2 linked regions of the Homo sapiens genome follow. The protein of the gene in region 1 binds, or shares a complex with, the protein of each later gene. Each region holds a gene or a part of one and is shown in the gene's direction. Other genes may lie near its edges. The genes, in order: DOCK5 and RHOG.

What was found.
Region 2: the proteins of DOCK5 (region 1) and RHOG are in contact, whole or in part, in a cryo-EM structure (PDB 8XM7), measured with the Homo sapiens proteins. Residues at the interface, in NP_079216.4 of Homo sapiens: Val232, Phe345, Asn393, His394, Lys395, Gly396, Trp400; in NP_001656.2 of Homo sapiens: Ala121, Pro123, Leu126, Arg127, Arg128, Lys130.

The regions. Positions count from the first base shown.
Region 1 is NC_000008.11:25,399,565-25,415,009, forward strand, and holds part of DOCK5 (dedicator of cytokinesis protein 5), read left to right. Parts: intron 1-346; coding exon 347-430; intron 431-1,364; coding exon 1,365-1,502; intron 1,503-3,993; coding exon 3,994-4,160; intron 4,161-8,418; coding exon 8,419-8,590; intron 8,591-9,237; coding exon 9,238-9,376; intron 9,377-10,534; coding exon 10,535-10,638; intron 10,639-11,629; coding exon 11,630-11,734; 3' UTR 11,735-15,445. UniProt on the Homo sapiens protein: Guanine nucleotide exchange factor (GEF) for Rho and Rac. GEF proteins activate small GTPases by exchanging bound GDP for free GTP. Along with DOCK1, mediates CRK/CRKL regulation of epithelial and endothelial cell spreading and migration on type IV collagen.
Region 2 is NC_000011.10:3,830,960-3,846,404, reverse strand, and holds the start of RHOG (rho-related GTP-binding protein RhoG), read left to right. Parts: upstream 1-5,445; 5' UTR 5,446-5,511; exon of another isoform or gene 5,512-5,837; intron 5,838-8,129; exon of another isoform or gene 8,130-8,338; intron 8,339-8,712; exon of another isoform or gene 8,713-9,128; intron 9,129-15,445.

The DNA.
Region 1 (15,445 bases):
TTGAGATATTGCCATTTCGCCTTTGCTTTGTTCTTTGGGAAAGTTATTTTAACGAATGACGTTTTGCTTTGTTGATGATGATTATTTGATTAGTGTGTGTGTGTGGTGGGCTGGTGACTGTTAAGAATGTAGTTTTGCTAAGAATTTGCTAATTAAGGAAAGACCACACAATAGCACACACTTTTTTGCATTGTCCAACATAGTATAAGAGCTGTCTGAGGAAAGGGATGCATTTTTAGTTAGACACATCTGGTTCTTCCGCACAGGACACATGTTTCACCCTTCCAGGCTTTCCTGCACAGATAGGAATGTGTTCTAATTAAAACTTGCATATGCTTTTTTTTAGGCTTTTTTTACAGAAAAGTACTTGCAGGAGCATCCTGAAGACCAGGAGAAGGTTGAGCTGCTAAAGCGACTAATAGCATTACAGGTACAGGACGGCTTTCCTCTACACTCCCAGGGAGGCCACAGTGTGGGACACCCATTATTCTCCAGGGCTTAAGTCTACAAGCCCACTCAGGGTGACTTTTCTTTCTTTTTTTAACCCTTGTGAAAGCACCACCTATCTATGTATTTGTTTGCTCGGCCGGCAGTTAAACTGCCCAGGGTTGACGGAGCCTTCTTAAAGCTGAGATCAAAGTTCATCGGCTGGGGCCGGGCCCAGTGGCTTATGCCTGTAATCCCAGCACTTTGGGAGGCTGAAGTGGGTGGATCACCTGAGGTCAGGAGTTCCAGACCAGCCTGGCCAACATGGTGAAACCCCATCTCTACTAAAACTACAAAATTAGCCAGGCATGGTGGTGCATGCTTGTAATCCCAGCTACTCAGGAGGCCGAGGCAGGAGAATCATTTGAACTCAGGAGGCAGAGGTTGCAGTGAGCCGAGATCACGCCACAGCACTCCAGCCTGGGCAACAGAGTGAGACTCCATCTCAAAAAAAAAAAAAAGAAAAGTTCATCTGTTGGTTTCCTGGCATGTGTTTCCAGCTGAGAGATGCTGGCCTCATTTTTTTCTCTCAAGACTTCAGTGGGCAGTGGTAGAAAACATGACTACCAAATTCAGTCTAAGACTTAAACCTATCAGTTGCTCATCCACGGAAGTGCCCCAGGACTCCGTTAGATTTGCCTCATCCCACAGTCCTTCCCCAGTTTAGGGCCAACCTGTATTCTTGGTGTGCACATTTTCCCACATCATTGACCAAAGTCCATCCAGTCCACAAGTCCTACACTGAGAAGTGGCCTTCCCATTGGCCAGCACTATGTCTAGCAGTTTACCTTTCCACCCCATCCCTCCCTTCCCCAACCAAATCAAAACGATCCCTCTTCCTGAAGCACACTGCACTCATTTTTTGCCCTTCTTTCCAGATGCCCCTGCTAACAGAAGGGATCCGCATCCATGGGGAGAAACTCACAGAGCAGCTGAAGCCGCTGCATGAGCGGTTGTCTTCTTGCTTCCGGGAACTCAAGGAGAAAGTAGAAAAGCACTATGGGGTTATAACACTGGTAAGCATGATCTAAGTAGCCTTCACACCTTTTTCTAGGCTCTGTGACCTTTTATGACACTGATTCGTTTTTCAGATGCCAAGTGAGTTGTAATAACTTAGCTATGGCATGGAAATAGTGAGGCTGGTGGGAGAGAGTGTGTTCCCCTCTTGGTGACCTTGAGCAGTCCTTGTGCTGGTCAGAGGTTCTCCAACTTGAACAACTATCAGAACCTCCCAGAGCGCCTGTGAAAATACAGATGGCTGAGCCATCATAACCCTGGAGTTTATGATTCCATAGATCTGGGGGTGGGGCCCAAGTAGTTGCAATTCTGAGAAGTTCCCGGGTGATATTGATGCTGCTGGTCTGGGGACAACACTTTGAGAACCACTGTACTAGAAATCAGGCCAGGTGCAGTGGCTCACAGCTGTAATCCCAGCACTTTGGGAGGCCAAGGAGGGCTGATCACTTGTGGTCAGGAGTTCGAGACCAGCCTGGCCAACATGGTGAAACACCATCTCTACTAAAAATACAAAAAATTAGCTGGGCATGGCGTCAGGCACCTGTAGTCCCGGCTATTCAGGAGGCTGTGGCAAGAGAATTGCTTGTACCCAGGAGGCGGAGGTTTCATTGAGCCGAGATCACACCATTGCACTCCAGCCTGGGCGACAGAGCGAGACTCTATCTCAAAACAAACAAACAAACAAACCAAAATAACTCAAAGTTTTCTGAATCCTAGACACTGGTTATTCTTGTGCTGTCTGGCCAAATTCTTACATTTTTTCCTAATCTTAGAAATAGTATCTATTTTGATGAAAAGTATACAGTTTTCACGCCTTTGAAGGGAAGAAGGAATTGTGAATTACATTTCATATGCATGTAGCTGCTTTCATAATTGTTTTTGACGAGCTCCTCACAGCTACAATTTTCTTTTCTCCTCCTGAGCAGTTCAGTGGATAGTGCGTGTATGTACTAACCTTTTCTCTCCAGTGAGTGATGGTGTAATACGTTCTAGCTCTACTTATCTGCATTTTTTTCTTTGAATTCATCCTGTTCTCTTTAATGGTCTTATTCTTTTTGTTTTGTTTTGTTTTTGTTTTTGAGACAGGATCTCTCTTTGTCACCCAGGCTGAAGTGCAGTGCGAGATCACAGCTCACTGCAGCCTTGACTTCCCAGGCTCAAGCCATCCTCCCACCTCAGCTTCCTGAGTAGCTGGAACTACAGGTGTGCTCCACCACACCCAGCTAATTTTTTTTTGTTTGTTTTTTGAGACAGAGTCTCGCTCTGTCGCCCAGGCTGGAGTGCAGTGGCACGATCTCAGCTCACTGCAAGCTCTGCCTCCCAGGTTCACACCATTCTCCTGCCTCAGCCTCCTGAGTAGCTGGGACTACATGTGCCCGCCACCATGCCCAGCTATTTTTTTGCATTTTTAGTAGAGACGAGGTTTCACCATGTTAGCCGGAATGGTCTCAATCTCCTGACCTTGTGATCCGCCTGCCTCGGCCTCCCAAAGTGCTGGGATTACAGGTGTGAGCCACCGCGCCCGGCCCACACCCAGCTAATTTTTAAAACTTTTTTGTAGAGATAGAGTCTCCCTATGTTGCCCAGGCTGGCCTCCAACTCCTGGACTCAAGCAATCCTCCTGCCTCAGCCTCCCAAAATGCTGGGATTACAGGTGTGAACCAGCATGCCCAGCCCTTTAATGGTCTTATTCTTAAACCCCTTATTTTCACATTATTTCCTCAAACCAAAGCTCTGAGTTTCTTTTCATGCTCTTTTCTCCCCCATTCCTGTCTGCCCACCTTCAGTACAGTTTCCTCCAGGGTATCTTTTTGAGCGTGTCTTTCAGCCATTAAGTGTTCAGTCGTGCCTTCTTCCTAAGATTGTGCCTCCTAACCTGCTGCTACTTAAGAGTTTTTCTAGGAGCATTTGTCTTTTGCACACACATTCCTAGACAGCAAAGACTGTCTTCGATTTAATGAGCTTAGTCATTATTAGAACTTGGCCGGTATTAGTGAGTCATTTTCATATGGTGGCATCTGGGGGTAATCCTACTGGTGACATTTCTAGAGAACATAGGATTCACCAGGTTAAGCTGCATGTCTACAGTGTCAATCTAACAATTTTCTCTAACCCCAATATTCCATATTTTAAAAGACTGAAAGCAGCTGAGCTGGGGAAGCAGACGGAAGGTTTTGCTATTTATTGGAGAGTGTGAGGCACATCTTAATTTTTTCCTGTCTCATTTAGGTAGCAGAAAATTATGACAACTTTTTCTCTAGTCTTAGCATCAGGGAGGTTTAACCTAAGTTGTACCTATAGCTAACAGTATCAGTACATGCAATATTTAACAATAGAGGCAGCACAGGCACCAACCAATCAGAATGGGGTGCCAGCCACATAACCAGTACAGATGGGTACTGGTTAGCCACAAGCAAACAGGGCAGCTGTGGCCAGTTCATAGGGGCTGGATTCCAGGTCCGCTAACCATGTGGAGTCATATGTTTTCAGCCACCCAACTTGACGGAGAGGAAGCAAAGCCGCACGGGGTCTATTGTGCTCCCCTACATCATGTCTTCCACTCTGCGGAGGTTGTCCATCACCTCAGTCACTTCCTCTGTGGTTTCCACCTCTTCAAACTCGTCTGACAATGCTCCTTCCAGACCGGGATCTGATGGGTAAGGGTTTCATCTTTAATCTGCAGGAAGGGTGGGGTAACGCCTTACTAATGTTTGCCTTTAGCCACGCATCACTCCTTTGAGAAAAATAGCCTTTGGGTCATTCTCATTGTCTTCCTCATGAGGAATGTCATGATTAGCAGAATAATAACAACAGTTACTAAAAATGAAAAATGACAAAGAAATCACCCATAATCCTACCACACTATTACATACCTATAGTCATTACCTATTTTTTTCATCATTTCCATTTTAAAAAATAAATTTTTACATCTATTTTATGAATAGGTTTTATAATCACATGGCATGAAATTCCAAAAGAACCAAACGATATATCACAAAAAATCTCCCTTTAATCTGAGACTTCCCACTACAGTAGAAGCCCTGCAGTAGCCCCACCCCTAGAGCCAGATGATGCTAACATTCAGGTTCTTGGTAGCCCCATGGCAGCTCTTTATAGGTTCACAAGCATTGCGTAATTATGTGTTCTTCCCCACACTTTTTTTATATGAATGGTAGAATTTTCTTTACTTTGCTTTTTTTCATTTAATATTATATCTTGAAACTCTTTCCATTTCAGAACATAAAAAGCCCCCTCTTTATGCTTTCTGTAGCTATAGATATGGCTCATTGTATGTATGTGGCATGATACAGATTGAGTATCCCTCATCCAAAATGCTTGGGGCCCGAAGTGTTTTGAATTTCGGATGTTTTAGTATTTTTGGATATTTGCGTTATACCTGTTCAGCATCCCTAATCCAAAAACCCCAAATCTGAAATGTTCCAGTAAGCATTTCCTTTGAGCGTCATGTCAGCATTCAAATATTTCACATTTTGGAGCATTTTGGATTTTGGATTTTGGGATTGGGGATATTCAACCTGTATATTCTACCAGTGCTTACTGGTGGTTATTCAGTTGCTTTCACTCTATTACTGTTACTTCAGTGTGACAATGAATAACCTTAAACACATGTTATTTTGTACATATACAACTATATCAATATGGGAAAAATCTCGTATGTGAAATTGCTCTGTCAAAGATGTATATTTGCAATTTTGAAAATTATTCCTAAACCGACTTCCATAAAGATTATACCAGTTTACACTCCCACCAGCAACACACAGGAGTGCCTAGTTACTCACCCTAGCCACCAAACTGTACTCTTAGTCTTTTTAAATTTTACCAATCTGATAGGTGGAAAATATTTTCTTGTATACTTTTTGTTTGTTTTTTGGTTTTTGTTTATTTTTCTTGTTTTGCCTGAAGTTGAACATCTTTTCATTTGTTTGTAGTTTTATTTTCTGTGACCTGTGGTCAAATACTTTTTTCTGTTGAATTGTTGGCCCTTTGTCTGTGAAATGAGTTGAAATGTTTTCTCCTAATTTCTCCTTTATCTTTTGACTTCTAATTTGTTGCTTCTAATTTTTTATTGAGTTGTGCTGATTTTTTTATGTAGTTATATAATCAATCTTTTATTTTATGACTTCTGGGTTTTATTTCACAATTAAAGGCCTTTCCCACTCTAAGATAACAAAAAAGGTACTTTTTTTTTTTCATTGACTTTTAGGGTTTCACTATTTACAATTTTGTCTGTAATCCTTTAGAATTTATTCTAATATAAGATGTTAAGTATGGAGCCAACATTTTTATTTCCAAATGGCTACTCAATTCTTCTTATAACATTTAGTGAACAAGTCATCTTTTTGTTTTTTTTGAAATGTCAATCTTATAAAAAATCAAATTTCCACATACTCTTTAGTCTGTGGACATTTTTTTTCTATTTCTTAGATTTACCTGTCTATTCATGTATCAGTACTATGCAATCTTAATTATTATAGATATAAAACATTTTTTATTTCCTAATATTCCTTTTCAGAATTTAATCTGGCTAGTGTCGCTATTGCTCACTGTTAGATTAACTTGTCTAGAATCCTATTGCTATTTTTATTAGGATCATGTTAAATGTATGGACTAACTTTAGGAAGAGTGATGGCTTTTTGATGCTGAGGCTTCCTTGCCAGAAACATAAAATGCCTTTCCATATGTTCAAATTTAAAATATTTGAAAGGAGTTATAGTTGTGTTCTTTCTGCCTAGCAATATATTTAAATAATATATTGCTAAAATACAGGAAAGGTTTAAAAGAAAACAATGCTTTATTACTTCATCACTCAAAGATAACCACCGTTAAAGCTCAGGTATATAATATCAAAAAAGTATGTTTATTTTTTATTTTTTATTTTTATTTCTTTGAGATGGAGTCTGGCTCTGTCACCCAGGCTGGAGTGCAGTGGTGCGATCTCGGCTCACCGCAAGCTCCGCCTCCCGGGTTCACGCCATTCTCCTGCCTCAGTCTCCCGAGTAGCTGAGACTACAGGCGCCCGCCACCATGCCCGACTAATTTTTTGTACTTTTAGTAGAGATGGGGTTTCACCATGTTAGCCAGGATGGTGTCGATCTCCTGACCTCGTGATTCGCCCGCCTCAGCTTCCCAAAGTGCTGGGATTACAGGCGTGAGCCACCACACCTGGCCCTGTTTATTTTTTATACAAGTGGAAAAGCATTGCATCTATCATGTTGTGACCTACTGCTTAATTTAATATAGGTGATGAGCATTTATGCATCATTAAGTATTTAAAATAGTCTTGAATATAAGTTATCAGTTGACTCACCATTTTTTCACAAATGTTTAATTCCATAATACAATAATTACATCATAAAAATAACCTACCTGAATGCCACCCTGCCTGGAAATCAAATATGTAGTGTTTCTTAAATTATGCATTCTTTTCCGTTGATATAGGTATATTTACATAGCTCCAATTATAGCATATAGTTTGGTACTTTGCTGTTCTTTCTTACCTTTTTATTATAAGCATTTGTCATGTTGCTGTGTAATTTTTATTTATGTATTTTTTTTTGAGACAGAGTCTCGTTGTGTCGCCCAGGCTGGAGTGCAGTGGTGCAATCTCGGCTCGCTGCAACCTCTGCCTCCTGGGTTCAAGCTATTCTCCTGCCTTAGCCTCTTGAGTAGCTGGGACTACAGGCGCCCACCACCACGCCTGGTGAAGTTTTATATTCTTAGTAGAGACGAGGTTTCACCGTATTGGCCAGGCTGGTCTCTAACTCCTGACCTCATGATCCGCCCACCTCGGCCTCTCAAAGTGCTGGGATTACAGGCGTGAGCCACCGTGCCTGGCTGTGTAATCTTTATTACTATCAGCTTTTACCATCATTTTTGATGGCAGTTGACATTGCATCATACAAATATGCCATGATTAATTATTCTTCTACTATAGAATATTTAAGCTGTATCCTTCTTTCTAAACAATTAACCATAAAACTTCATTATAGATTTTAATACAAAAATATGTATGTAACTTGTATCAGTATAAAATATATTTTTATTAAAAACTATAGCAAACATATTTGGACATGTAGCTTTCTTATTAGGATGCATTCTTAGAAGTGGTGGGATTATTTCTAGAATGTAGTAATCTAGATTCTAGATTACTTCTAGAATCTAGATTACATTCTAGTAGTATATAGTAATCTAGATTACTACATTCTAGTAGTATGTAGTTTGTGGGTAGGATTTGAACACAGGCTATCTGGCTCCAGAGTTGTGCTCTTACCCACTACATAAAACTGTCTATTGAATCTCTTACTTTAAAGATTCTGTCTTTGCCTGTACATTGAATTAAGCCCTTCACTTCCTGGGATAAGATACTCCCTAATATTTTCGTCCAGTCGTCTGATGGTCTTGTTTCTGTACATTAACACCTTGAGATGTTTGTTCAGTTGTAATTGAAAATTTAGATTTAGAATCTGAGAGTGAAGTCATAGGTCAAGAGTAGGTTGAGGAGGCCGGGCATGGTGGCTCACGCCTCTAGCCTTAGCACTTTGGGAGGGCTGAGGTAGGAGCATCACTTGAGCCCAGGAGTTTGAGACAGCCTGGGCAACAGTTTGAGACCAGCCTGGGCAACATGGTGAAACCCCATCCCTACTAAAACAATACAAACTTTAGCTGGGCATGGTGGTACACACCTGTAGTCCCAGCCACTCAGAAGTCAAGGTTATAGTGAGATGTGATCGCACCACTGCACTCCAGCCTGAATGATGGGAGAAAGACCCTGTCTCAAAAAAAAAAAAAAAAAAAAAATAGCCTAAAGAGTCATAACTGCTGGTACTTTCATAGTGAATTTTGATTGCAAGGTGATCAGTATTTGTGATGTTTGTCCTTGTTCCTGGCCAATAGCTCAATCTTGGAGCCACTTTTGGAGCGCAGGGCCTCGTCAGGTGCCAGAGTTGAAGATCTGTCCCTTAGAGAGGAGAACAGCGAGAACCGGATCAGCAAGTTTAAGAGAAAAGACTGGAGTCTGAGCAAGTCCCAGGTCATTGCAGAGAAAGCACCAGAACCCGATTTGATGGTAAAAAACAGAAAAGAAAAAAAGAAATCTCTGGAGGCTTGCCCCCCTCTCCCCTGTACCCAGGCATATCACCATCCCCTCCCAGATTGAAGCTGGGCTATGGCTTGTTTCAGGACTCAGCAGCCTGGGTTAGTGTCAGGTCGCAGATTGTGGTAAGGAAAGCACATACCTCATGAGAAGTTCGAGTCTATAAATCAACATTGGTGAAGATCTTGTACCCACAATGTAAACATGTGGGTTGATGCTTAGAGCTGTCGTTCTTGCCACTCTGTCCCCTGAGTCAATCCAAACATTGTCATTTCTCTTCTTTAATTTTTTTAAAAGGTACTTTTCCTTCCATATCAAGTTGTTAAATGTGGCAAGACCACCTTTTCCTGAGAATCAGGGTGGCTTATTTCCAACATAAATGACACAGCCCAACTGTGATCAGAAGAATCAAGTCTGTGGCCATTCAGAAAATAATCTGTGGTTCAGTGGTTCTAGTCAGTGCCTGTTCGGTGTTGCCCATCATATGACAATGCTTAAAAATCGCTCCTTCAGTTAAGTCCTTTTCCAAGTGTCTTCTCAGAAGACAAGGCTGTTGAGAGCATTGTTGAGCTCAGCCTTCCTCACCGTGAAAATGTTTTGCTTTTTCTCTCTGGTCCTAGAGCCCAACCAGAAAAGCACAAAGGCCAAAGAGTCTCCAGTTGATGGATAATCGGCTATCACCATTTCACGGTTCTTCACCTCCTCAGTCAACACCCTTGAGCCCACCTCCACTCACTCCCAAAGCCACCAGGACCCTAAGTAAGTTTTCCTGTATTCCTTATAGTCTTTTTACTAGGGAATGGAGTATGTTTATGCATCTGGGCAGTTTGTAACTAAACCAGCCAGAATGTATGTAAGACCATTGTAAAACTGGTTCAATTTCGTGTTCGTGTATTATACAGTTAGACTGGAGTTTGGCAAGGAGGCCACTAGGACTCATTAAACTTTTCTGGATAGTGATCCAAAGGGCATTAGTGTCAGTTTTATAATTGTGAAGGTATAAATGAGGCAGATCTGCACTAGGACTAGACAGATAACAAGTAACTTACAAGCTAACCATTAGTTAGGTAGACCTGAACAGGGACAAGAAATAGACCCATTCCATCTACTGCTTATAGTCTGGCTTGGGGAACCAGCAGTGCACAACACTTGAGAAGAATTGCAAAGTACCCATAGTCCAGAGGCATGGTAGAGGGATAAATCTATCGAGCCAGATGGGAGACAATTGTCAACCAAGAGTTAGAGATAATCAGTTACAGTTTCCTGGAGGAAGTGGATATTTTCCTAAGCACTTGGGCTATATCAGAGAACAGAATAATACCATACATTCCAGAAAATGTTGTCATCTTCAGCTTAATACTAAAACCCTGAACAAAAAAAGTTTTGGCCAGGCACGGTAGCTCACGCCTGTAATCCCAGCACTTTGGGAGGCCGAGGCAGGTGAATCACGAGGTCAGGAGATCGAGATCATCCTGGCTACAGTGAAACCCCATCTGTACTAAAAAATACAAAAAATTAGCTGGGCGTGATGGTGGGTGCCTGTAGTCCCAGCTACCTGGGAGGCTGAGGCAGGAGAATGGCGTGAACCCGGGAGGCGGAGCTTGCAGTGAGCTGAGATCGCGCCACTGCACTCCAGCCTGGGCAACAGAGCGAGACTCCATCTCAAAAAAACAAAAATAAAAAAAATAAAGTTTTTGCTTCAGAACACCTTGTGGAGCTCTTGAAACTTCTGGCGAGGGCGTCACCTGTGTGATGTGGGGTAAGAAGTCTTCTTCGTTCTATCCGCAGAAACCATAGAATGTGGCTTTCATCAGTTGGTTGACCAGGTTGGCTTAGGTGTTACAGTGCCAGCAACATTTCCATGAGCTTCCTTGCTCAGTGCCTCTCTCTGCCGCCTGCACTTTCTGTCATTTCTAGGCTCCCCATCGTTGCAGACAGATGGAATCGCGGCCACTCCTGTCCCACCTCCACCTCCCCCCAAAAGCAAGCCCTATGAAGGCAGCCAGAGGAACTCCACTGAGGTAGGGAAATCACAGCTGGCAACTGTGGCCAGGGAGCGCCACTCCTGGGAAGGCAGCATCAGGTTTTCCAGGCTCTTTAGTGGGCAGGTTTGCTCATAGACCTGTCACTGCAGTCGATTCTTGGCTCATTCCTGAAACCACAGGAGATAGAGAAGTTTTCAATGGGAAGGACAGACATGCAAGCAGATGATGAAGGTAGAGGCAGGTGTTCTCTGTACCTCGTCCTGGGTACCTGTGAAATAAGCCGTGAGTTCTAGTTCACCTTTTTAGGGGGGCGGGGGCAGGGTCTGGCTCTGTCACCCAGGCTGGAGTGCAATAGTGCGATCATAGCTCACTGCAGCCTCAAACTCCTGGGCTCAAGTGATTCTCCTACCTTGGCCTCTCAATTAGCTGGGACTACAGGCATGTGCCACCATGCCCAGCTAATTTTTTAATCTTTTGTTGAAATGGGGTCTCTCCATATTGCCCAGGCTGATCTCAAACTCCTGGCCTCAAGTGATCCCCCCCACCCACCTCAGCCTTCCAAAGTGCTGAGATTACAGATGTGAGCCACTGCCTGCCCCCAGCCCTCTATTTCACATTTGAAGAGTTTACTTCTTCTGAATAAAGGACAGTCATTCTGGAGTGACCTCAGATGGGTTTCCTTCAGTCATTTAACAAATGACTTTTAAGTGCCTCCTGTCTATACGCCAGGAACCCAAGTGTTGGGGATATGGCAGCGAGAGAGAGAGAGAAAATGTGTGTGTGTGTGTGTGTGTGTGTGTGTGTGTGCGCGCGCGCGCACGCACGCACGCACGCACGCGTGTGTCTGATTAGCTCATGGGAAACAAGGAGGATAAGTCAGTGTAGTTTTCCATTTCACTTTGCAAAGCCTGTGTAGATAAACTCAGATCAATTAGAAGCTAAAGCAGAATATGAGAAATAGGAGGAGAAGGCAGAATTGGGAAGAAAGCTAAGACCTGCTTCTAATTTTGTGTTTCTGCTTCTGCAGCTCGCTCCCCCACTGCCTGTCCGAAGAGAAGCCAAAGCACCACCCCCTCCACCTCCAAAGGCTCGGAAGTCTGGCATCCCTACTTCCGAGCCTGGATCCCAGTAAGGATCTTGCCCTCCCTGCAACACCGAGTGCCTTAGACAGCTGCTGCCTGAGAACTGGCCTCCAGCCGGTGTCCTCATTCCATGGGGCTCCCTGCTGACTGCATTTCCTGATCTGGGATGATGTTTACCAGCCCAAAACCAGTCATGTTCTTCCAAAAGCTTCTCTTTGATAGAATTTTGAGGCCATGCCACCTCCCTTCCAGTCCACATGGAATTCCAGAATCAGTCACAGCCTCTGATTTTTTCCAAGAAGAGATTGCCTTCACCATTGTTAAATGTCAGCCTGTACGGCAGAGACATGGTGGTCTGCACAAGCCTGGACAAGTTCTTCCATATTGATGGTGGAGCAACCCCTGTAATCTACTCCTTGGAAGGATTTTTTGCTTTGCTTATGAAAAGCTGTGCTTGAGACTTAGGTACTTTTCTCACGTGGACACACTGATCCCATCCCATATTGCATCTTGGAAGAGATGGATATCAAGTACACTTTGGTAGCTGAAATAATCATATCTTTCTGATGTCTATTGTATCTCCTTTGAGGAAAAGAACACACATTTTTAATGGAGATTGGCTGCTTTCAGGTATGTGTGTCTATCATTGAAAGAGCATGGACTCAAACATCAGCCCTGAGTTCTTGAGTCCACCCAACTCCCATCTTCTTGTGGCACAGGAAAGCTGCCCTCTCCCTCTCCCACCACACTCCTGACTAATGGCCTTCACTGCGTCGCAGTCACTCCTTCCCTACGGACTTCTTTGAAGCTCTTCCTTTTGCACATACGGCTTTTTTTTTTTTTTTTTTTTTTTGTCCTATTACCTCCTCTGAGCGCAAATCACTGGCTACAAGGGACTTACCAGTCTGGATTCAGCAGTTTCTTTTCTAAAACCCATTTGGGTGACTCAGCAGCCGCATCTGCTACCTGATTTTATCCTGGAGAATACAGTGCAATATTTCTCTTTGATTATTTATTCCTCTTGATTGTGGAATTAATTTGATTGCTTGCTAATGGTACTAGTAGTACTCCTTTCAGAAGAAAAAATGGAGCGATTTAGGTGACCAAATATTACATACATAAATAGCCACATGAAGTTTTAGACGTTTGGACTTGAAGCCTCAAAGATCAACCAACCAGTCCCCTTATTTAGTAAATAAGGAAATTGAGGCTACACACAGAAAATTGTGCTACAGATTATTACTAATAACCCAGCTTGCTAAATTAGGCTATACCTAGGTAATCTCTAGAAGACAACTCTGACAGACTCTTTAATATTTACCCCTGGTTGGAACAATATTTGAAATGTCCCAGATATTTCTATGCTACTTAGATATTTGTGGCAAAGCAGAAAGCTTTTTGACTGTGAAGGCAGAGGTCAGCACTGGGGGAAACTTGCTGGTGGTCTCTCCCACAACCTTGCCCAGAGTCCTTTCCACTAAGGAGGTGAAGAGAACAGAGAAAGAGATTTCCATTTCTGCTGCCAGAGCTGGTATTTGCCTGCCTGATTCTCTGTGTTTCCTGTTTCACCGCCACCCTTTCAGGAGAGAACTACACCAGTTCATCATGAGGGTCAGGGAAGCAAAAGCTCTCAGATGTGTCCAGGGCGTTACTTAAGAAATGAGTATGCAGATTCTGGAAGGGGTGTGGAAAAGGTGATCCTTTACCCCCACCCAGGAAAACCTGCATTGTGCTAGCATGGAAGAATCATGGGCTTTGGAATTAAACCCATTTGGTGGAATTAAACCCATTTGGTTTCAAATCCCAGTTATGACATCTGTTAACTTTGCAAACTCACAAAAATTATTTGAAATTATCTGAGTTTTCATTTTCTCACCTTCCAGAATGGGGATAATGCCTCCTGCATCGGTTGTTGTGAGGTTTCAATGAGATGAAATATGGGAAAGAAGAGGTACTCACCTGATGGTCCCTGCTTTCCTCTGCTAGGCCTGAGTAGGAACTGGAACTCTCTAAGAGCATTACTCATACTTTTTTTTTCTTCCAAGGTAGTTTGGAATGTGAGTGCAAGTTAGTTCTGCACATACAGCCCTTCTCCAAATGGTGGTTTCCTTTGAGGTCTTTTACATGATTATTTATGACTAGAGACAAACTTAATAAGAACTCAAGAGGATTTTAAATGGAGAGAACTCAAGCTGTAGAGAAAGGAGGAGGCAACAGACAGGATATGTAGGGGCTTACCTAGAGCCTGGCACGACTTCTGAGAAGTCACCCAGCAGACCGGCTAGAGGGGATTTGTGTGCCACACTCTACTTGCCGGGCTGCCATTAAAATAGAAAGATATAAAACTGGGTCACCAAAAAAACCAAACCTCAAGGCTATCCTTCCAGAGCAGTAGAAATGAGTCCCACAGCCTGGTCTTTGAGCAGAGGCTGGGAAGATAGGATACATCACTGTCTGGATACCTTCTCTTTTTAATAGAATATATTCCGTATGATTCCCTTTCCACCTTAATGGAAATAATAGCTCTCTCCTGCCTGAACAAAAGGGATTCCAGGTAGTATTGTGGCTAAGAGATTACAGCGGACGATGGAAGGTTCATTTTTTAGGGAAGGTGTTGGGTAGGAAGAGTCACATTTGACAGAATTCATAAATAATGTGTCCTGAAGTCAGAGGATGACTGCAAAGAAACACCTCATGATTCCATTAAATATAAAGAGATAAGGAGCAAGGAGGAAAAAAGAGAAAGAATTGGTCTTTATTTTTCTTGCTAAGAACTCTCTGGAGTATTGAAAGACATTGAAATTATCCCTAAAATTGTCACAACTTTTGTGAATACTGGTATACGGTTGGAGGTGTTTTTAAATCTTTATTTCCTCTCTTTCTTTGTTCTAGTGACTTGTCTTGCTTTAAGATTTTTTTTAAAGGATTGTTTTATTCAACATATATCAAGTTCTTATGGAATGCCAGTCATGGTACTAGCCCCTTGGGATGTAGTGGTTGAGTGTGTTCAATGGAAACAGCCCCAGTATACAAAGACAGTTCACTCTGGTGTGCTGTAGGATTGGAAAGGGAGTGGTACCAGATGAAAATGAAACCCTAAAGAAGACTGCTGGGCCATGAGTTGCTTCCTCCTCCTCCACCTTAACCCTCTGATTCCAGAATTGCAGTCATTTTCTTCTGCCAAGGAAATCCATTAAAAACTGCAGCCACACTGCAATTTCCTAATGTAGAACAAGATATAAAGCAGGCTTTGAGACAACAACCTACCTTTGTTTACTCTTTCCAAGCTGGAAGAGTCCTTCTCCTCTAGTTGCCCCTAGGTCACTGGCTAATTTATTTTAAAATTTAGATGGAACTCATGTATAGTTAAGTGCACAAATCTTAGCCGTGCAGATGGGTAATTTTCACATAGCTATTTGCCCACATCCGTGCCTCTAAGATAGAGACATACACTGTTTTCAGCACCCCAGAAAGTTCCCACATGCCCATGGTGCCATTTTGTGAAAGGTATTTATAAGGCCCTTCAAATTTGTGGCTTCCTTTCTCATACTTCTCAGGTATAATGAAAGGGGGAGAAAAACCCCACCATCAACACAAAACAAGGCTATAAAGACTGTGCACCTTTTAACAAGTCAATTTGTAGTCAGTCCCTGGGCCTGTCTTTTTTTTTTTTTAATTTTGAAGCTACCTGAGGTTTAGAATTCCTTCAGCCCTAGCTGCTTTTATTCTGCTTTTTATTTAAACAAAAAGAGGGGGAGGAT
Region 2 (15,445 bases), on another chromosome or scaffold:
TGCAGTGAGCAGAGATCGTGCCACAGCACTCCAGCCTGGGTGACTCTGTCTCAAAAAAAAAAAAGAAATAATGAAGAGGAAACTGTGTTCTACTCCTGAGGCTGGCTGAGAGAGGGAAGACCAAAGGATCAAGAGGAGCCCCAAGAAGGCTGAGTCCCCTGGAGCCACAGCAGAGGCAAAAGAGAATTCAGATTTAAGGGTAACCTAAAGGGGCTGGGACTGGGGCTAAGCCAAGACCCCTGTGGATCACTGGTGAGCTCCTGGAGCTGGAGTTCAGTGAGGAATAGGCTGGGAAGACCCCTTTGGAATCCTCAGGGCACTGGTGAGATCAGTTCAGGGCCTTTCTCCTCTCACTCTCTGTCCCCTCCTCTCTCAGGGAAACTAGTCAGCTTTAGCATTTTGACATTGAGAGAGAGGGAAGAATTAACCAAGGGCGGGGGGATACCTGAAAACATCAAGGGAGTGTGGAGAAATTAACTAATGTTTATTTGCTGTACCCTAGGGCAATTTACGAGGGCTCCACATGCATTATGTCGTTTAATACTCACAATCTCATGCAGCACTTGCCAGTCCCATTTTATTGTTTTTTATTTGTTAGTTTTTAGAGACAGGATCTCACTCTGTCACCCAGACTGTAGTGCAGTGGCATGATCATAGCTCTCTGCAACCTCAAACACCTAGACTCAAGTGATCCTCCCACCTCAGCCTAGCAAGTAACTGGGACTACAGGCATGTGCCACTATGCCCAGCTAATTTTTGTGTGTGTATGCAGATGGGGTCTTGCTATGATTGCCTAGGCTGGTTACAAATTCCTGGGCTCAAGTGATTGTCCCACCTTGGCCTCTCAAAGTGCTAGGAATAGAGGCATGAGCCACCACGCCCAGCCATTCCCATTTTAAAATGAAACTAAGACTGAGAAGTTGGCTCTGTTATATGCTCTTACAGTATTCTGTACTTTTTTTTCTGGAGAAATGTTCTTGCTATGTTGCCCAGGCTGGTCTGAAACTCTTGGGCTCAAGCAATCTTCCTGCCTTATCCCCCTGAGGAACTAGAACTGGAGACAAACACCACCATGCCCAGCAGCACTCTACTTTTGTATGATTACCTGTTTAAGGTCTATCTCCCTTACCAGTTATATCAGGGCAGTTTTCTCTACTTCATGATTGGCATGTAACACTATGTCTGGCACCAAGAAGATTTTCAATAAATATACATTGAATATTTATGAATATGGGAGATCTCATATGACTAATCAAAGGCCATACTGTGTTACAACCATCCTAATCTGTCTCCAAAACCTGTCTGTGATCTCTATTCTACCCCACCAAGTGCTTTCATATTATCTCACTTCTAAATGTCCAGGTTCAATGTCCTTGTCTCTCAGCTGCTTGTAAGCATACATGCACACCACCTACCAAGAACTCACCTATTCAGGGAAAGCTAGTGAGAGAGTAGAAAAAAGAAACAGCCCATTTGGGATTGTGCCCTCTTCCTACCCTCTTCAAGTCAGCATTTCTCCTCCTTCAAGAAGCCTTTACGGACAGCTCCACCTGTCCACCTGCTTCCCTTTCCTCTGGCCCTTCCCATACCTGTGCCACAAAAGTGTTTCCAAGTTACCTGGAGTCTGATTGTTCTACACATATTAGTACTTTATTAAAGCAATTTAACATTATGGATGTTTAGTGAAGGCAAATGTGTGCTCAGGCCTGCCTCTGTCAGGCCCAGTGGGTGGACACAGAAATGAATCAGACGCAACCTCAAAGGACTTATAGTCAGTGGGGGAGACAGATATTAGGCACAGATGCAATTTACTAGAGCACAAAGCATGATGACCTAAATGGTATTAAAGAACTATGAGCAACATGCTATATGCATAAACCTTAATTATTATTCTGAAGAGTGTATCATAGAAGATGAGAGCTCAAAGGTATCATCTAGTTCAACCTCTGTTTTCCAGTGGAAGAGTTTGAGACAGAGAAGGGTGGGGCCTAGCCTAAAATCTCAATCTGTCTGTCTGAGCCAAGACAGACTTCAAGTTTGTTTGTGGTTTTTTTTTTTTTGTTTTTTGTTTTTTGAGATGGAGTCTCGCTCCGTCGCCAAGCTGAAGTGCAGTGGCGCGATTTCGGCTCACTGCAACCTCCGCCTCCTAGGTTCAAGTGATTCTCCTGCCTCAGCCTCCCGAGTAGCTGGGGTTACAGCCATGCACCATCACACCCAGCTAATTTTTGTATTTTTAGTAGAGACGGGGTTTCACCATGTTGGCCAGGATAGTCTCGATCTTCTGACCCCATGATCCGCCTGCCTCAGCCTCCCAAAGTGCTAAGATTACAGGCGTGAGCCATTGTGCCAGGCCAGACTTGAAGGTTTTCTAAAGCCCAGCCTTGGACTTTTTCCTCCTCTTCTGATAGCTTCATATGCAAAGTCCTATACTTCATCAGACCATGAGATCTTTGAGGCTGGATCAGGTTCTCCCTCCTAAACCAGGGCTAGGCAAGCCCAAGACACTTACAGGCTCAGGAAATGCAATCTGATCCCAGGCTGCCAATCCAGTCTTTCAATCTGCAGCACCTAATGTGCTCCCTACTCTTATCACTATGTCCTTAAATTGATTTTCAAATATTTTTTGCAGGAAACTTAAAAACAAAATTAAACTCTCTATGCAGAATACTAGTAAATAAATCAGATAAAAAGCAAACCTTCTCTGGTTGAAGGGGAGAGAGTCCATAGCTCCACTGTTTTTCCTGTTCTTAAGTCCTGGGAAGGGAATTCTAGGAACACATATCAGAAACATTTCTTCTGGAGCTGGATGTGGTGGTGTGTGCCTGTAGTCCTAGCTACTTGAAAGGCTGAGGTGGGAGGATGACTCGAGCCCAGGAGTTCCAGGACAGCCTAGGCAACATAGTGAGAGTCCCATCTAAAAAAAAACAACAAACAAACCAGAAAAAACTTTTGTGCTGGGACATAATCTTTAATGGCGTCATAGAAGCTGCTTTAGCGTATGGTGTTCCTCTGAACCCTGTCATTTCTGGGGCTCACAATCCTTTCTTTATTCATGAAATACCAAGCACCCCAATGTCAAGTGGTCCCAATGGTGTATGGATGGGAATGAGAATTTCCCCTTGTGCCTCCTGCTCTCATGTCCTCCACAAAGAGGAGTTTGTCTGAAGGGCTACAGGGACCAGACCGAAGAGGAGACAAGAGACCCAAACACTGCCTGGCAGGTCAGGGGAGGCTTCTAGAGAAGGATCTTTGAGAAAGACTTCATCCACACAGTCATTCACCAGCCTGAATCTGATAAAGCCTCTGTTTTTGAGGATGATACAGTAGCCACCAGCTACACATGCTATTGACCACTTGAAATGTTTCCAGCCAAATTGAGACAAATTGTAAGTATAAAATACACACCGCATTTCAAAGACTTGGTACAAGAAAAGAATGCAAAATATCCAGTTAATTTTTATAACCAGTAATTTTTATGTTGATTACCATGCTAAAAGATAATATTTTGAGGCCGGGCGCAGTGGCTCATGCCTGTAATCCCAGCACTTTGGGAGGTTGAGGCGGGCAGATCACGAGGTGAGGAGTTCAAGACCAGCCTGGCCAACATGGTGAAATCCTATCTCCATTAAAAATACAAATATAAGCCAGGCATGGTGGCACGTGCCTGTAATCCCAGCTACTTGGGAGACTGAGGCAGGAGAATCATTTGAACCCAGGAGGCGGAGGTTGCAGTGAGCAGAGACCGCGCCACTGCAGTCCAGCCTGGTGACAGAGCGAGACTCCATCTCCAAAAAAAAAAAAAAAAAAAAAAAAAAGATAATACTTTGGCTATGGCTAAGTCAAATATAGTTAAAATTCATTTCGTTTCTTTTTACTTTTTTTGAAATGTCATTAATAGACAGTTTTAAATTACTTACGTGGTTCCTATTTATTTTTTTAAAAATATAAGTAGGCTGGGTGTGGTGGCTGACGCCTGTAATCTCAGCACTTTGGGAGGCCAAGGCAGGTGGATCAACTGAGATCAGTAGTTCGAGACCAGCGTGGCCAACAGGGTGAAACCCCGTCCCTACTAGAAATACGAAAATTAGCCGGGTGTGGTGACATGCACCTGTAACCCCAGCTACTCGAGAGACTGAGGCAGGATAACTGCATGAACCTGGGAGGCAGAGATTGCAGTGAGCCGAGATCGTGCCACTGCACCCCAGCCTGGGTGACATCGTGAGACTGTCAAAAAATATGTGTGTGTTTGTGTTTATAGAGACAAGGTTTCACCATCTCTGTAATTACAGGCAGACGCCACCGCGCCAGACTCTTAGGGTATGATATTTTTAAAAGATATTTGTTTAGTGTTTGAGATACGCATTGACAACAGGTCTTTTACACCCATTCTCATGTTATCTTCAAAACTACGGGGTGAAATATAATTATTCTATTTTACCAAAGACAGATTTGAGGCTCAGAAAGGTTAAGCTATTTATTCCTGGAATCAATCCGTTTATTTGAAAAGCTTCTGGAAGACAGGGATCCTGTCTTAAACGCTGTGTTTCTTCACAGCACCTAGCACTTAGCTCTCTCCACGTGGTAGGCGCTCAGAAACTTTGTGCTGAACGAAGGATATGGATTCTCAAGTCAAAGCTCCGAGCGCAAAGCCAGGGAGCGAAGCACCAGAGGGCGCCCATGAGCCCGCCCACCCGCGGGTCGCCGGGGCCCAAGCTGGACCTCAGGCCTGGGTGCGGCTCTTCAGCCCCAAGCAGCTGCGCGCCCCAGCAGAACAGGGGGCGAGGGGGCGAGGGAAGCCCCAAGTCCTCCGTCCGCCCCGCCCCCTCCCCAGAGCCAGGCCTCGCAGGGCTGCACGGTGCTGAATGACGACTCGACATCCTGTTTTTGGGGCCCGCGGCTCCGCCTGCGCCTCTGCTGATCTTGTCTTTCCCTTGGGTGCTGACGCCAGCTCCTCTTCCCCCCGAGTCTCCCCACCCTCCCCAGGGGTCTGGGGCCTTCCCACTGCTGAATCACCACCACCTCGCACTCCCCCGGGGCTCAGGGCAGGGGCGGGGACTGCCCCAGCCTCGGCCACCACTCTATCCCTGGGGTTGACTGAAGGGACCAGGCCCAGGGGCGCCTTTCTCAGCATCTTCCCGCGGAGGCTGGTGGGGGCGGGATGGGGGGAAGAGGACGAACGCCTAGCGCCCAGGGTAGGGCCTCCAGGGGTAGGGTGGCCAGGAGGAGGCGGAGAGACTTGACCTTGGGAGGCCTGACTTACTGACCGCAGGGGCAGCGGACTGGGAGGGGAACGTGGCAAGCCCGGGACTGGGCCGGGGGCGAGGCTGGGGGCGGGCCGGGGCTGGAGAGGGGGAGATCGGCCCTCGGACTTCCTGGTCGGGCCCCGCCCCGGCCCGCCCCGCCTCGCCGGCCCGCCCCCCCCACTTCCTCCGGCCTCCCGCTCTCACTTCCTTCTCGAGCCCGGAGCCGCTGCCGCCGCCCCCAGCTCCCCCGCCTCGGGGAGGGCACCAGGTGAGGCCCGGCCGGGGCTGGCGGGTAGGGGTCCGGGGGAGGAGAGCCCGGCCGGCCCAGGACTCGGCGCGGGCGCCGGCTCATGAGTTTGCTGGCGGAGGCCGCGGGCGGGAGCTTCTCGGTTCAGTCCAAGTAGGGCGGGCGCGGCCGGCCGGGCGGGGCGGGAACGGGGCCACTGCGAGCCGGCGGAGGCTCGGCGAGGGTGGCTTCCCGGCGGCTGTACCGCCTCTAGGGAGCCGAGAGGGACCCCTGAGGTCGGAGGGTCCCGGGCTCCAAGATAAGTGTCTCTGAAGTGGAAGAGCTCAGAGCTGGGAGATCGGACGCAGGTGGGGTGTCCTCAGAAGTTGGTGGGGGGGGTGTTGAGAAGTGCGTGAGGGGAGAGGGCTTCTGGGCTGGAAAAGGCGCTCCCTCTGCTCTGGCAGTTGTGACACTTGGGGTGAGAGGGGCGGTGTCTGGGGCCTCCGAAAGCTCTCTCCCTGTCAGATGGATGCTAATACAGACCCACACTCGGTCTGCAGCCCCAAGGCCCTCTGCACTCAGGAGGACCCGGGTTGGGTGGGGGAGCCCCGCCGACCCCAGTCGTTGTCTGTATGTCTGTTTTCCTGAGTCCCGACCTTACCTGGAGCCAAGCAGTAGGTATTTAGTGAGCAGACGCTGTTCCTAGCTGACCAGAGCCTGGCCTTGCTCTTTTGGGAGTAACTTGGTCTTGCCCTGTAACTGGAAGTGGAAGGACTCTCATTCAGAGGTACTGATAGTCCCTGACAAGTTTTTGTTGTGTCTTTTGGGGACAATTGAGAACCATCTCCTAGTGTTCCTCTTCATTCTTAGTCCCTGAATTATACACATGCTCCTGTCGTCTCCCTCCACACCTTCTTTAGTTTCTACCCACAAATCCGCCATCACTCTCTTCTCATCCCTTCCAGTCTCTTTTCCTCCAAACATACGGTCATACCTAGGCCTTGACCTGTCTTCACCTACCCTGCCCCATGTTCGTCTTGGTCCTCTGCAACCTGCCCCATCCCTTCCCTTCCCAGCTCTGGCACCCACACACATGCACCTCCTGGTTTCTTCCATCACCCCTCATTCCTTTTGAACCCTCAGCCTGTCACCCTCTCTGTATCCTTCCCTCCCACCCACTTATCTCCAGCTTTGGAATCAGTTGTTGAAGACTTAGTGAGTTCTAGAGTCTTTTCAAACCTCCCTAGCTTGGAGAGGCAGTCTGCAGCCTCCCAGTGATAGAGACGGATTAAAGAGCTGGAAAGCCTGTGTGTGTGTGTGTGTGTGTGTGTGTTTGCGTGTGTGTTCGCACGCGCGTGTCTGTGTATCTACATCTTCATCTCTTAGAGATGGATTAAAGAGATGGAAAGCCTGTGTGTGTGTGTGTGTGTGTGTGTGTGTGTGTGTGTGTTCGCGCGCGCGTGTCTGTGTGACTACATCTTTATCTCTTACAGACAAAATAACTGCCCTCAGCCTTGAGAGGGCCCAGAGCAAGGGAAGCCAGCAGAATGAAGGGAACCTGCAGTGAGTGAGGTTGTGGTTAGGCAGGAGGAAGCCGTTTGTAGCAGTCAGGGTAGGGTGACACAGGAATAAGACTTGTAAGAGAGGCCGTGGGAAATCAAAATCACCCCAACCCGTGGTGCTTGACCAAGAGGCCAGGCCTAGAAGCCGGAAGACAGCCTGAAGGTCCCTGACTCCATTACCTACTAGTTCCAGCATCACCTGGTGGAAAGAATGGGACCAGCTTGGGTGTGATGGAAATAAAGGGAGGAGGCAAATGCAGGATTCTGGAGGAAAGACTGCAGCTGGTCTAACTTCGGACTTAAGAAGCGGCGGAGGCAAAAGTGTCTGCTCCTTTCCTGCTACCTTCTGGGGCCTGCCTAGGCTGGGTACCCGCATGCCCTGATCTGCATCAGGGCCTTAGTGACCAGGAAGCCCTCTGGAGTTCTACTGACCCCTCTGCCTTCAGGCATCCTTAATACTCCCCATCTCACCTAGGACCCTATTCCTTCTCAGGAATTCCTCCCAAATTTAACTTCAGTCCATCCTGGCTATGGAGGCTCTTGTTTCCACTCTAGAGCTCCATCCTCAAGCTTTTGGGGTGCATCTGAGGATCTTGCTCCTGTCTACCTCCTCTAGTCATCTGTATTCATTTCTCTCCACTAGAAAAAAAGAGAAGTAGAGGGGAGTAAGTGCTACAGCTAAATTTAAGGGCTCTCCCTGTTCCCCATTCTGTCATCTTCCCATGTCACAGTCGTCCCTCTCCCATGAATTGTTCTTCTTCCAGTCCTGCCCTTCCAACCACTTGTCTCTCTTCCCATTTCTTGGAGGTACAGAAGTTTGGGTCCGGGAAGAAATCCCAGGGACCTACATAAGAGCCCAGGTTAGAGAAGGATGTGCATACAAGGCACTTTCCCAGCATCACAGCTTAATAAAAACCCCAGGAGTCCCAGTTCCTAGGCTGGCAAACCAGTAGTTACTTTAGTATTCTGCGTAACTGAGCAAACCCACAGGGCTCTGATGGTAAAGACAAGATGGGTGAGACAGGGATTCTCCCAGGTGAGATCTGGCCCCATTGGAAGTTTGAGCTAATTGCAAAAAAGGCATCATTGGAAAAAATGTGACCAGGGCGGGAGAGATTTTAATGGGAAAATATTGGGGGGTAAAGGGAGGTGGTGGCTACAACCTAGGAGGCTGCCGCTGAAGTCTTGGCTAAACAGGTATGGTCAAGGTTGTGACATGAAGAAGGGGGCTCAGGCCCACACTGAAGACTCCTTCTATATACTGTAGACCCATTAGTGGTGAGGTCAGTAGGGGTCCGTGACAAGAGCTGAGGAGGGAAACCAAAGACAAAGCCTGGGCCACCTCCCCAGATCAGACTGGTTTTCCTGTCCAGGGTCCAGCTTCCTCTTTTGTCCTCATCTCATATGGGGGGAGGGCATCTCTCCAGGAGCTAGAGGCCAGAGGAGGAGCTTCTCAGCTAGGGCAGGGCCAGAGTGGCTGGCTATTGAGTAATGTCAGTGCTAAATCATGAATGCACCAGGATGGGCTAGGCATGAGAGCCTGGGAACTTGGAAGCAAAAAGGCTCAGATGTAAGTCAACCCACCCTTTGGCCCATTTTCTGAAGGAATAAACCATGGTAGCGTTCTCCTGAATGAGGTTAAAGAGATGGCCCATTCTCAGGCCAGAGTTAGAATCCTCACCTTCTCTCCTTTGTAGAAGTAGCATAAGGGTGGAGGCTAGAAGATCCGGATCCTTGTCGTAGATTTGCTACCTGGTCAACTTGGTTTCTCTTGGCTCTATTTTAGCATTAAGGAGTTGCATATCAGTACCTCCAAAGGCAACAGTGAACATCATGGCTCTGACTCTTCCTCCCCCAAGAGACTGCTCATAGCAGTGCCCCTCACTCTGGGCCCTTGTGTCTTACCAGCCTCAATTTGACAGGTCCGAGTAGTCTGTACATACATATCTGTCCAGGGATAGTACTGCCCTTTCCCCAAGCACAAGGACTGTTAGAGCTTGAGAGATAAGAAGGCAGAGAATGTTGGGGATTTTGCCAGGGGGTAGTAAGATGGGGGAGTACCCTGTCTCCTACTCCAGCTCTGCCTCACTGACAGTGGAAAATAGATGCCGGAGTTTCCTCCCTGGTGTTATTTTCCCTTGTGGAAACCCCCTCAGGCCTCGGGCGGGGCTAAAGGGACTGGGCAGCCCTGGGTCTCTCTGTGGGTATTTTCAGGTGGGGGTGCCAGGATTTGCAGGATGGCACTTCTGTACAGCCTCATGTGAAATTAGCAAAGGCAAAGGAAGTGCCACTTCACAGGCCTTTGGTGGGGCCCAGGGACTGCTGAGCTGCTGCTAGGCGGGGAGGAGGAAGCCAGTGTGCACCCTTCCTCTGTGCTGCGTGGGGGAGGGGGCAGCTTCCTTGGCTCCCCCAGCCAGAGCTGTCCTGGTCCTGAGGCTCAGCTTTTTTTTTTTTTTTTTTTTTTTTTTTTTGAGATGGAGTCTTGCTCTGTCACCCAGGCTGGAGTGCAATGGCGCGATCTCAGCTCACCACAACCTCCACCTCCCGGGTTCAAGCCATTCTCCTGTGTCAGCCTCCCAGGTAGCGGGGACTACCGGCATGCACCACCAGGCCCAGCTAATTTTTTTTGTATTTTTTAGTAGAGATGGGGTTTCACCATGCTGGCCAGGCTGGTCTCGAATTCCTGACCTCAAGTGATCTGCCAGCCTCAGCCTCCCAAAGTGCTGGGATTACAGATGTGAGCCACCATGCCCAGCTGAGGCTCACCTTTTATGGAACACTTAGGGTGCTGGGACAGTGAGGGAAGAAGGTTGGGAACTAGGACTTAGTGAAAGGGTCCTAGACTGCCCCCAGCCTTCCCAGCTACCACTGTCTCGTTTCCTAGTGGGTGGCATCAACTCTTCTCTTTTCCTACCTGCTGCTGCAATGTAGGATCCTCTCCAAAGGCTGAAGGATGAATGACAAGAGGTGGAGAGTCCTCCAGCATGGATTTTTTCTTTCTTTTTTTTTTTTTTTTGGAGATGGAGTCTTGCTCTGTGGCCCAGGCTGGAATGCAGTAGCATGATCTCTGCTCACTGCAACCTCTGCCTCCTGGGTTCAAGTGATTGTCCTCCCTCAGCCTCCTGAGTAGCTGGGATTACAGGCGTAATCCCACCACTACGCCCAGCTAATTTTTGTATTTTTAGTAGAGACGGGGTTTCACCATGTTGGCCAGGCTGGTTTCGAACTCCTGATCTCAAGTGGTCTGCCTGCCTTGGCCTCCCAAAGTGCTGGGATTACAGACGTGAGCCACGGCACCCGGGGGATTTTTTTTTTTTTTTTAAGGCTAGGAACTGGGCTCTCTTGGGTTCTTCCCTGCTGATGGGGAGAAAGGGAAGAAAGAGACTCAGCCCTTGGCCTGGTCCCAGTCCCACACTGACCTCATGTCTCCCCCAGCTTCCTCCTCCCAGCCCAGCTGCAGCCAGCTGCAGCCCCTTTGAGCCTCTTTATATCACCTCTCCTCTATTCCTCCCTTCAAAACAAACAAACAAACAAACTTGTAGAGCTTTGGAAGTGTTTCCAACAGTGCCCCTGTCCCTTGCCATGTCTTTGACCAAGGGTCCTCGGATATTCCCAGTCTGTAGCCTGTCGGGACCACTTTTCCTTCCCATCTTCCTCATCATCTCTGAGCTAGATCTGCCAGCTTCACCTCTCACCCTTCCAGTTGAAGACAAGACAGTATAGCTTATGTGTTTATTACCCCAACTTTGGGCTCTTCAGGGTGAATGAGAAAGAAGTTGGTTACTTATGTCTTGTGTCTTCTGGTCCTAGAGGTTCTTCCTTGTTCCCAGCATCAGAGTCTGTGGATTGATGGGGGAGGAGGGGTATGTCATTCTACAGCTTTTGCTCAGCCCTTCCCTGGGCTTCTGGAAATAAACAGAAGGTCAGACTACCCTCCCCCTGAAGCATCCAGTTAGTTCAGCACAATGAAAAGTACGGTCAATGCTGGGAAAGGTAAGGCAGAAGAGGGGGTTGCTGTGATGTCCTGGAGAAGCTGGGGAACAGTACTGGGCCTGAAGGACAGGAAGGATCTGAAGGGGGGTGAGTCGCATTCCAGGAAGAGGAACTCCCATATGCAAAGACATGATTGCATCGACTTCATTCAGTCATTTACTGACAGCTACTACATGGTGTGCTCAGCTTAGGGTGCTCAGCAAGGTCCAGTCAACCAGGACCTTGCCCTCTAGACACTCCCATTCTAATAACAAGAGATAAGATTCACATCAGCCTCTCCAAGCCTGTGAGAGAGACAGGGACCAGACTTTGGATAGGATAAGTCACTTCTGACTTGGATAATTTACGCTTTCCTGGAAGAGGCAGCAATGGTGCATGGTTCCATATTACTACTTGGTGTATTTTACGGAAGAGAATATGGAGGCCCCTTTGTAGAGGATCAGGATTGGAATGGCCAGAGATGGATTGTAGTTATAATGAGGTTCAGGGAGGGCTGCAGAAAGGGAGCCCCATGTTAGGGAGGCAGGTTATAGAAGGCTGAGGTAAGTTCCCATCACCTCCATACTCGCCTATCTTTTAAGAGTCCGTTCCTCCCCTCCCCCACTCCCAGTTGGGACACTTCCCCTGCTGTAACAGCCACAGAGATCTGGCAATCAGGCTGCTTCCTTTCCCTCCCCCATTCTGGGCCTGCCTGGGCCACACCCCAAGGCCAGGCCCCACTGGGTACAAGCCGGGCTCCAGGGACCACATTCAGATAGGGTTAGACCCCCATGGGCTATACTTCCTGCCGGAGCCAGGTCAGCCTGGTACTGGGAAGAGAGATTTTTGCCTATTTCAGGCATAGCTTTTGCCTGTCATTGCTGTCCGATGAGATTCAGCATTGCAGTCTTGTCTGTTGGGGGGTGGGCAGGGAGTGTCCGATACTGGGCTTCAGAGAAGTCTCTCCATATCTCAGTGATGAGGGCTGGTACAAGCAGATCAAAAGGCAATGGTTGTACAGTCCTGTGTGCCTAGCCCTATACTTAGAGGTTTTTTTTTGTCATTTAGTCCAGAGAAGCCAAGGCTTCAGTACTGAAGGGCATGTACAGCTGGGAAACTTACGTATGACTGTTGGAAAAGGAGAATCACACAGAGCCAAAGCAGGGTTAAAAGGGGTGGCCATGGGTGCAGTGGCTTACTCCTGTAATCCCAGCACTTTCAGAGGCCAAGGCAGGTGGATCACTTGAGGCCAGGTGTTCAAGACCAGCCTGGCCAACATGATGAAATCCTGTCTCTACTAAAAATACAAAAATTAGCTGGGCATGATGGCACATGCATGTAATCCCAATAACTCAGGAGGCTGAGGCAGGAGAATCACTTGAACCCGGGAGGTGGAGATTGCAGTGAGCTGAGATCGCGACACTGCACTCTAACCTGGGCGACAGGTAGCCATGCAATGGATATCCAAAGAAGAATTCAGTAACCTTATGCAACTGTGAGACTTAAGTTAGGCCTTAAGGAGTAAGGAAGATTAGAGAAGGGAGAGGGAATGGCAGCAGAGGGAAAAACAAAGAGTAAAAGTTCAGAGGCAAGAATGATCCTGGCTTGTTTGCAGAGGACATTGAAAATCCCTCTGGAACAGGGAGCTGGGAACTCACACTTGCAAAGTACCTACATTGTGCACATATTATACATTAATGCACTTAGTCCTTATAACAGTGCTATGTGGTAGGTACTGTACGTTGCCACTGCATTTGAAAGATAAGGAAATTGAAGCTTAGAGAGGCAAATCATCAGAAGCTCAGGGTCACACAGCTGGTAAGAGGCAGAACTAGGATTCAAACCCAAGTCTACGTAACTCTAATATCCCTTATCAAATTGTGAAGAACTCTGAATGCCAGTATGAGGGACCAGGCATGATCTGAATTGGGACTAAAAAGCCAGAATAAGTCATTGTAATTTGTCTAATAACATACAGATCTGGCCAGGCATGGTGGCCCACGCCCATAATCCCAGCACTTTGGGAGGGCTAGTCAGGAGGATCACTTGAGACCAGGAGTTCAAGACCAGCCTGGGCAACATGGCAAGACCCTGTCTCTACAAACAAACAAAAAGATGCATTAAAAATACAAAAATTAGCCAGGTGTGGTGGTGCCTGCCTGTAGTCCCAGCTACTCAGGAGGCTGAGGTAGGATGCCTTGAGCCTGGGAGGTTGAGACTACAGTGAGCTGTGATGGCACCACTGCATTTCAGCCTGGGCAACAGAACAAGACCTTGCTCCAAAAGAAAAAACAAAACAAAACAGATTGGCAACCATTGATTTACTAAATAACTTTTTTTTTTTTTGAGACATGGGGTCTTGCTGTGTTGCTCAGGCTGGAGTGCAGTGGCTACTCACAGGGACGATAACCTTGACTAGTGTACACACTACAACCCTTCACTCCTGGGCCCAGCCTCCCTAGTAGCTGGGACTGCAGGTGCACCACTGAGCTGGGCTTAATGATTCTTTTGAAAAAGCCACTTAGTGAATAAGTCATTGTTGAACCCCGCTCCAGATAGGTCACACTCCTGGTTTGGTGTCCTGCAGCACTGACATCCCTTCTTCCTGTTTGGCACAGTTTAGACTCTATATGCCCTCCTGAAATGGGCTATGGTAACTTATTCAACCCAGTTCAGGCCAGAGGATTTCAGAAAGAAGAGTTGTTTTGGGAGAGAGGATAAAGGTCTGAACTAGACCTGAGTAGGGAGGACTGGGCTGATCCCCTACCACAGATACAGGCATACTCAGTGCTTCCTGCCTTCTGGGATGAAAGGCTTTGCTCCTGTCACCTCCTGTGTGTACAGCACTTCAGTTTACAAAGTGTATTCATTCCCATGGTCAGGTTCCTTGATGCTGCCCTTGAGGCTGGGAGGGGTACTATTATTACTTCTACTGTACAGATAAAGAAACAGAGGCTCCAGGAAGGGCAGTAACTTACCTGATCAAGGTCACACAGTTAGCTGGTAAGGGGTAACTTGAAGACTGTATGATGCACCAAGGAAAACACAGGACTTTGGGTCACAAAACTGGGTTTGTGTTCTGGCTCCCACACTAACTAGCTGTGTGATGTTGAGTTACTTTTACTGTTCTGAATTTGTTTCCTCATCTGTAGAATAGGCATAGTACTAACAGGTTGTTATAAAGGTCAAATGACATAATAACATGTGACCTATAAAGGCTTATACCATATGAGGGCTTTTTTATCAAGGGTCAAGGTCGGCAGATAAACTCAAGACATCAGAGTCAGGTATCCAGTACTCTTGGCCCTATACCACACTGCCTTTGCTCTGCTTGTTTCTGGACACTACCATACTCATCATCCTTTTCCAGTGTCGGTCCTCGTTCCCTTCCCAGCCCGGAAGCTACGCTGTCCTTCCCCTCTCCTTTGAGAGCTGATTTACTGATTGCTAGTTGATAACCACCTCTTTAGAGAGCTGTACTTCCAGTCTCTTGGGCCTTGTGACAGCCAGCCGGAGTTCCCTCCTTGCCTTCCTGCCTGGGCCAGCCCAGTGCTGGGCTTTTCAGTCATACTGTCAACACCCACTCTCCTGCTCTGTGTGGAACTGAAGATTACAGGCCCAGGAGTTCTGCTTTGAATGTCAAGGCTTCCCACGTAATCCGCTGGGCACAAATAATGCCCCCTGCCTCCAAGGAGCTTTAAGTCTTAGTTCATCCACCTAGTGCTCTTGTAACAACCATTTTAATCTCTAATTCCTGGATAGGAAAACTGAGGCCCAGCAAGCGTAAATGCCTCATGCTTGGTTATAGTGAGTCAGCAGAGCTGGGGTTAGAACTTAGGTCTCTCAACTTCCAGTCTGAGGTCTCTATTTGACTCTCCACTGGCCTAGAGGGTCCTTATGCCCTTCCCTGACCCACTGTCTGAGGGTCTCTATCTGAATGTCCTGACGTTGCATGCACACGTGCACGCGCACAAACACACACACACACTCTCTCTCATTCATGCAAATAGGATGGAAATATTTTTTAATGTGAACCAGAGACACAACTTCATAGAGTGAAACCATTCCTCTCCCAGCTGATTCCAAGGCAAACTGTAGCCTGGGAGGGAGGTGGGACCAAGCCCTGGGTCCTTTGCAGCCCCCACATGACGAAAGTTTCTTTTCCACTTCCCAGTGGGGATTTTCTTCCCCACTTGTCATTGATTTTTGAAGCTTCTGAACCAGTGGTGAGAGCCCAGGCTGGGGGGGTAAGGGGTTCCCAGACCAGGGTGCAGCCTTGCAGTATAGCAAGTGAAATGGAGAAAATGGGCTAGTGTTGATGGTGCTTGGGTGGAGCCAGGGATAAGGAATACTCAGGGATTTGGTTGTGTTTAAAACAGGGCTGCCCCCTCTCAGGGAGCAGGCCCTGGTTGTGGGAGACAGTCAGGGAAAGGAAGTCACAT